2 separate regions of the Homo sapiens genome follow, and region 1 is linked to region 2. A link means that fine-mapping ties the variant in region 2 to the expression of a gene that starts in the linked region. Tissue or cell type: testis. Region 2 holds a variant in brackets; the other region holds the start of a gene. All regions are shown on one strand. Distances are between the middles of the regions.

Region 1 (2,680 bases), 460 kb after region 2:
ACAGGTCAGAACCCAGGCAGTCTGATCCAGGAGTCTGTATTCTCAGCTACTATGCTATTATGGACAGGGTGCTACAGGACACAGAAGGGCAATTAACCTTGGGGGTTAGGCGGAGGCAGCGCTGCCTGCGCTGAAAAACATGTAGAAGGTAGCCCAGCAGACAAGAGAAGGAGGAGGTTTCCAAGCAGCGGGGGCTGGTGTGTGCAAAGTCATGAAGATACGAACAGCAAGGGTAGGCATGGCGCATGCTGCAGTGCCGTATTATTGGACCTTAGGGTGCACACAGGAGACTGCTAGGTCAGATCACAGAGAGCTGTGTAAATTGTGCTAGGGGTTCAGCACATAGGCAATAGAAAGCCAGAAAAAGGTTATCAGCAAGGAACTGGCACCGTAAGACTTGTGTTCTAAAAGGATCACAAGAGTTACAGTTTGGAGACTGGGTTGCAAGCTGCCAGGGCTGGACTGTTGGGAATTGACAATACATCAACAGCGTGGTAACAGAAGAGATGGAGCTGGCCCAGGTTTGAAGGATGTTCAGGAAGTTGGCAGTACTAGGTCACTTTTAAGATGTGGGACTTGAAAGAGAGGAGAAAGTGTAAGGAAATTACCAGACTTCCGGCTGGGTTGGGGTAGAGGAAGAATTAATCTGCAAGGAAAAGACCAGTTCAAGTTTGGACCCAGTGAGCTCCATGTGAAGCAGAGCTGTCCCAATGGCCGCTGGATGGGCAAGCGTGGAGCTCCAGGGAAGGGCTGCGCTGAAGATGTGGATCTGGGTATTTAGTTGGTGTAAAGCTGAAGCCGTGGGGGAAAATAAGACCACTGAGATTCAGTGTACAGAGCGAGGGGTTGGGCGACAGAGGAAAACGTGAAGCGGGACTTTGACCGACTGTCAGAGCGGTACGAAGAAAACCAGGAGACATTGACTAACCCAAAAATGCGGGGTGAGGGAACGTGTCATTAGAAATGAGTGTCAATGGTACTATGCACCTCTAAGAACTCAAGACTTCAAAGGGCCCTTTTAATACCAATTAGGAAGTTATTCACGGCCGTTTCGAAAGGAAGTTGGGGAGACACGGGATGACACTGAGACGCAGAGCTACCGGAATGCGTAGATGTTTTCCTCTCACCCCAGATTCCGACCCCTCCCCATACCTGCCCCTGCTCATAACACCCAGACACCTCACCCTCTCCTCTCCCCTCAGTTAAGACGGAGGCTTTGGAAGGAGATCCCGAACGTCCTCCCCGGGCTCCCCAGGATAGGCGGGGTCGCCAAGAGTCATTGCTGGAGACCCCAACCCGCGCGGGGCGGCGCGAGGCCAGACAGAGGAAGGGGGCGGAACCTGAGACGCAGCGGGTGTGGGAAGGGTCGGACGGAACCCAGCACGGACAGCGGGCGGCGAAGCGGGTTCGACCGGCGGAAGACGGCCCTCGCACGCCACCCGCTCCCAGCGACCGCTCCGGGACCCACCTGCTCCATGTCAGCCACGGCCCCGGCTCTTCCCGCCCCAACCGCAGTCCGGCTCCGCGGCCTCAGTAGCGCCTCAGAGCGGAAGAAGATCTTCCGGCAGCGCCACTTCCGCCGCTGAGTCCGCCCCCGAGAGCGAAGCGGGACTTGCGTTCGCCTGCGGCCCCGCCCCTTCGCCCCGCCTCCAGCCCCGGCCCTGCGCAGAAGCGGACTCAAAGGCCGGAGTCTAAGGGCCTACCTAAGGGTAGGGGAGTGGGAAGAAGACCAGGGCCGTCGTTATTAGGCCACACAGGCCTGGCACTGAGGGAAAAAGGGGAATTTCCCGAGGGGAGTCCTGTGGGGATGGGGAAATCTTTGGAGGAATCCAGTTATTCGAGAAGGACTTCCCCACCCCACCTGCCTCCTTCAGCCATCCCAAGCAGCAGCTAGAACTTCTGTAGTTCTTCCTCTGAGTGCCCCGAGCCTGCTGTCTGCCAGAAAGACTCCTAGACTAGAGGATTGGACAGTAGGGTCAAAACCCTAACCCTTGGTTGACCACCGGCCTTCCCTATCAGGACGCCCCATTACCTCCCTTTTCCTCCTGCTTCCCCTGAAAGAGGAGTCTCAGCAGTTATTTACAAAGATTTATTACAGCACGGGAGGGGTTCAGGCCTGGAGTCAGGGAAGAAGGGGAAAGGGGCAGAGCAGCTGGGGGACAAGGAAAACCTGGCGCCCCCCGCTGTGTGCCCCACCGGGGACATAAACTAGGCGGCATTCCTGGCATCAAAGCACAAAACGCAACAAAGAGGTCTCTGCCAGTCCATCTTCCAGGCACCCAGGAGGAGCAAGGGTGATTAAGGGAAGATTCCCAAAATGTTGAGGCTATGGAGAAAAACGCCTTAGTCCTGGACCCTGGTAGAAGCCGGTGAGAGAAGTGGTGACTTGGAATCCTCCATAGGAAAGTGGGTAGAAAAGGATCTAAGGGTACCTCAAGGTTCTCAGGACCTCCTTTCCCCAGATCTTAGGGTCCTGCCCTGTGGGTCTCCTGTGTCCAGGGGAGAGGATCTGGGGAGTAGAATTGTGAAGGGCAAATCCCTGTTCCCGGTTTTCTGGATTTTCCAATGTGGGCTGTCTCACATCCCACCTCCCGCTGGGTGAATGGAGGAATGACTGGCAGGGGTGGGCATCAGGCAGCAAGTGCCCAGGTTCTCTGGGTATCAGCCAAAGGTGGGCAAA
Region 2 (2,680 bases):
AGAGACGAGGTTTCTCCATGTTGGCCAGGCTGGTCTCAAACTCCTGACCTCGGGTGATCCACCTGCCTCGGCCTCCCCAAGTGCTGGGATTACAGGTGTGAGCCACCACCACACTTGGCCTTTTTTTTTTTTCTTTGAGATGGACTCTCACCCTGTTGCCCAGGCTGTTGTGCAGTGGCATGATCTCGGCTCACTGCAATCTCCATCTCCTGGGTTCAAGCAATTCTCCTGCCTCAGCCTCCCGAGTGGCTGGGACTACAGGCGTGCGCCACCACGCCCAGCTAATTTTTGTATTTTTAGTAGAGATGGGGTTTCACCATGTTGGCCAGGCTGGTCTCGAACTCCTGACCTCAGGTGATCTGCCCACTTCAGCCTCCCAAAATGCTGGGATTACAGGTGTCAGCCACCACCCCCGGACTCCCATATTCTTTTTCTCTACCTTTTCGGTGGCTTTCATGTTTCCCAGGCATCCATCAATACCATCCCAGGAGCTGCCTGTGGAGAAGGGCTTCCTATGTGAAGAAAACCCTCTCTAGAAGCACTGGGACTGGGGAGGAATTAGCGGGAGCAGCAGGTGGCTCAGGCTCCCTCTCCCTTCGCTGCCTAAGAAGCTTCCATCCCCTCCATGACCCAAGCCCTCTAACATGATAGATCTCCTCTACTTGAGATCTGTTATTACTCATGGGACAGTTGCTGCTCTGAAGCGAAATACTGGCTGTTTTTTGTTTGTTTGTTTTGGAGACAGAGTCTCACTCTATCCCCCAGGCCGGAGTGCAATGGCGATCTCGGCTCACTGCAACCTCCACCTCCCGGGTTCTAGCGATTCTCCTGCCTCAGCCTCCTGACTAGCTGGGATTACAGGCACCCACCACCACATCCGGCTAATTTTTGTATTTTTAGTAGAGACGTGGTTTCACCGTGTTGGTCAGGCTGGTCTCAAACTCCTGACCTCAGGTGATCAACCCACCTCAGCCTCACAAAGTGCTGGGATTACAGGCATGAGCCAAAGCACCCGGCAATGCTGGCTGTTTCTAACCCCTGTTCAGTATTTCACTTGTACATCTACCCACCTTCCCATTCGGGGTGGGCAGATGAAACTAGCAATGGACGTCTGACCTTGGGTCGGTCACTTCTCCTAAGCTTCCTGTTCCCCACTAGTAAAAAGAGGGAGGCTTAAGATGATCTACATGTTCCCCTCT[G/A]AGTAGTAATCTTCTGTGGAATTCATATTTTATCCTCCAGCACCGAGGGGCAGGGGTGTCACTCTGCCCCCACCCCCTGCCTCACCTCTTCCCCATTACTTTAGGACCTCAAAGCACTTTCACTATTAGTTCCCCTCTGTTGTCCTTTTTATTTCCCAGACAAAGGGAAATGACTCACCCCAAAGTCAACTGGAGTGGGTGGAATGGTGTCATACAAGCAAACAGGGAGTCCCTACAGACATCCCTACCTCTGTGGGAACTCCTTCCCCTGGAGGTGTTCTCCCTAAGGCGAGTAGAAGGGAAAGGGGGTCACATTTCCTTTCCTTCTCTGGACTTTGCCCTGAAGCAGAGGGCAGCCTAAGCTCCTGACTCCAGGGAAATCTCCCTCCCCGGCTTCTCTCTCTCCCGGTCACCAGTAACCTCAGGACGAGGTCAGTCCTGCAATCACGTGAAGCCCTCACGTTTGCAAGGTTTGCAGAAAGGGCCTCTTAGCTTTGATCTCCCAGACAGCAAACAAGCTTGCCAGTCCCTCCCCAGAAATTCACATGCCCCTGCCATACAGGCTTTCTAAACACGCCACCCTGACTCTTCAGCGCACCCCACCCCACCCCACTCTCAGCTCCTCCCAGGTCCCGGCAAGCGCTTTGCCAGGCAGAAAGGGGAAAGGCACGCAGTCCGCCCACTTTGTCGGTGGACTACAAATCCCGACAGTCTTGTCGTTGCGCAGGCGCGCAAGAGCTCAACGTGCCGGCTGTTGGAAAAGTGTGTCACTGGGGCACGAGGCGCTCCCTGGGATCACATGGTACCTGCTCCAGTGCCGCGTGCGGCCCGGGAACCCTGGGCTGCTGGCGCCTGCGCAGAGCCCTCTGTCCCAGGGAAAGGCTCGGGCAAAAGGCGGCTGAGATTGGCAGAGTGAAATATTACTGCCGAGGGAACGTAGCAGGGCACACGTCTCGCCTCTTTGCGACTCGGTGCCCCGTTTCTCCCCATCACCTACTTACTTCCTGGTTGCAACCTCTCTTCCTCTGGGACTTTTGCACCGGGAGCTCCAGATTCGCCACCCCGCAGCGCTGCGGAGCCGGCAGGCAGAGGCACCCCGTACACTGCAGAGACCCGACCCTCCTTGCTACCTTCTAGCCAGAACTACTGCAGGCTGATTCCCCCTACACACTCTCTCTGCTCTTCCCATGCAAAGCAGAACTCCGTTGCCTCAACGTCCAACCCTTCTGCAGGGCTGCAGTCCGGCCACCCCAAGACCTTGCTGCAGGGTGCTTCGGATCCTGATCGTGAGTCGCGGGGTCCACTCCCCGCCCTTAGCCAGTGCCCAGGGGGCAACAGCGGCGATCGCAACCTCTAGTTTGAGTCAAGGTCCAGTTTGAATGACCGCTCTCAGCTGGTGAAGACATGACGACCCTGGACTCCAACAACAACACAGGTACTGAGATTTCTTTACTATCATCTTTTCCCTGTCACTGTCTCCC

Direction of the effects. Alleles are on the strand shown, and positions count from the first base shown. SD is a standard deviation of normalised expression in the study named.
In carriers of allele A in region 2, the expression in testis of the gene that starts at base 1,556 in region 1 tends to be lower than with G alone (moderate effect, 0.66 SD a copy in GTEx).

What was found. PIP is the estimated chance that this variant, and not a neighbour inherited with it, causes the effect.
Region 1: it holds the start of STARD3, and the variant in region 2 is fine-mapped to the expression of STARD3 in testis (GTEx, PIP above 0.99).

Annotation. Positions count from the first base shown.
Region 1 is chr17:39,636,020-39,638,699 of GRCh38, reverse strand. STARD3 (StAR related lipid transfer domain containing 3) reads right to left here and starts at 1,556. Exons shown (of 15, transcript NM_006804.4): 1 at 1,469-1,556. It overlaps PPP1R1B (protein phosphatase 1 regulatory inhibitor subunit 1B), which reads right to left. Exons shown (of 7, transcript NM_032192.4): 7 at 2,076-2,680. LOC124903998 (a long non-coding RNA gene) reads left to right here and starts at 1,410. Exons shown (of 2, transcript XR_007065749.1): 1 at 1,410-1,709. RefSeq lists an enhancer at 885-1,004 and a silencer at 1,545-1,614.
Region 2 is chr17:40,100,018-40,102,697 of GRCh38, reverse strand. NR1D1 (nuclear receptor subfamily 1 group D member 1) reads left to right here and starts at 2,109. Exons shown (of 8, transcript NM_021724.5): 1 at 2,109-2,634. The coding sequence starts at 2,604. RefSeq lists enhancers at 1,744-1,863, 2,344-2,413, 1,879-2,680. The variant G/A (reference allele first, on the strand shown) is at 1,200.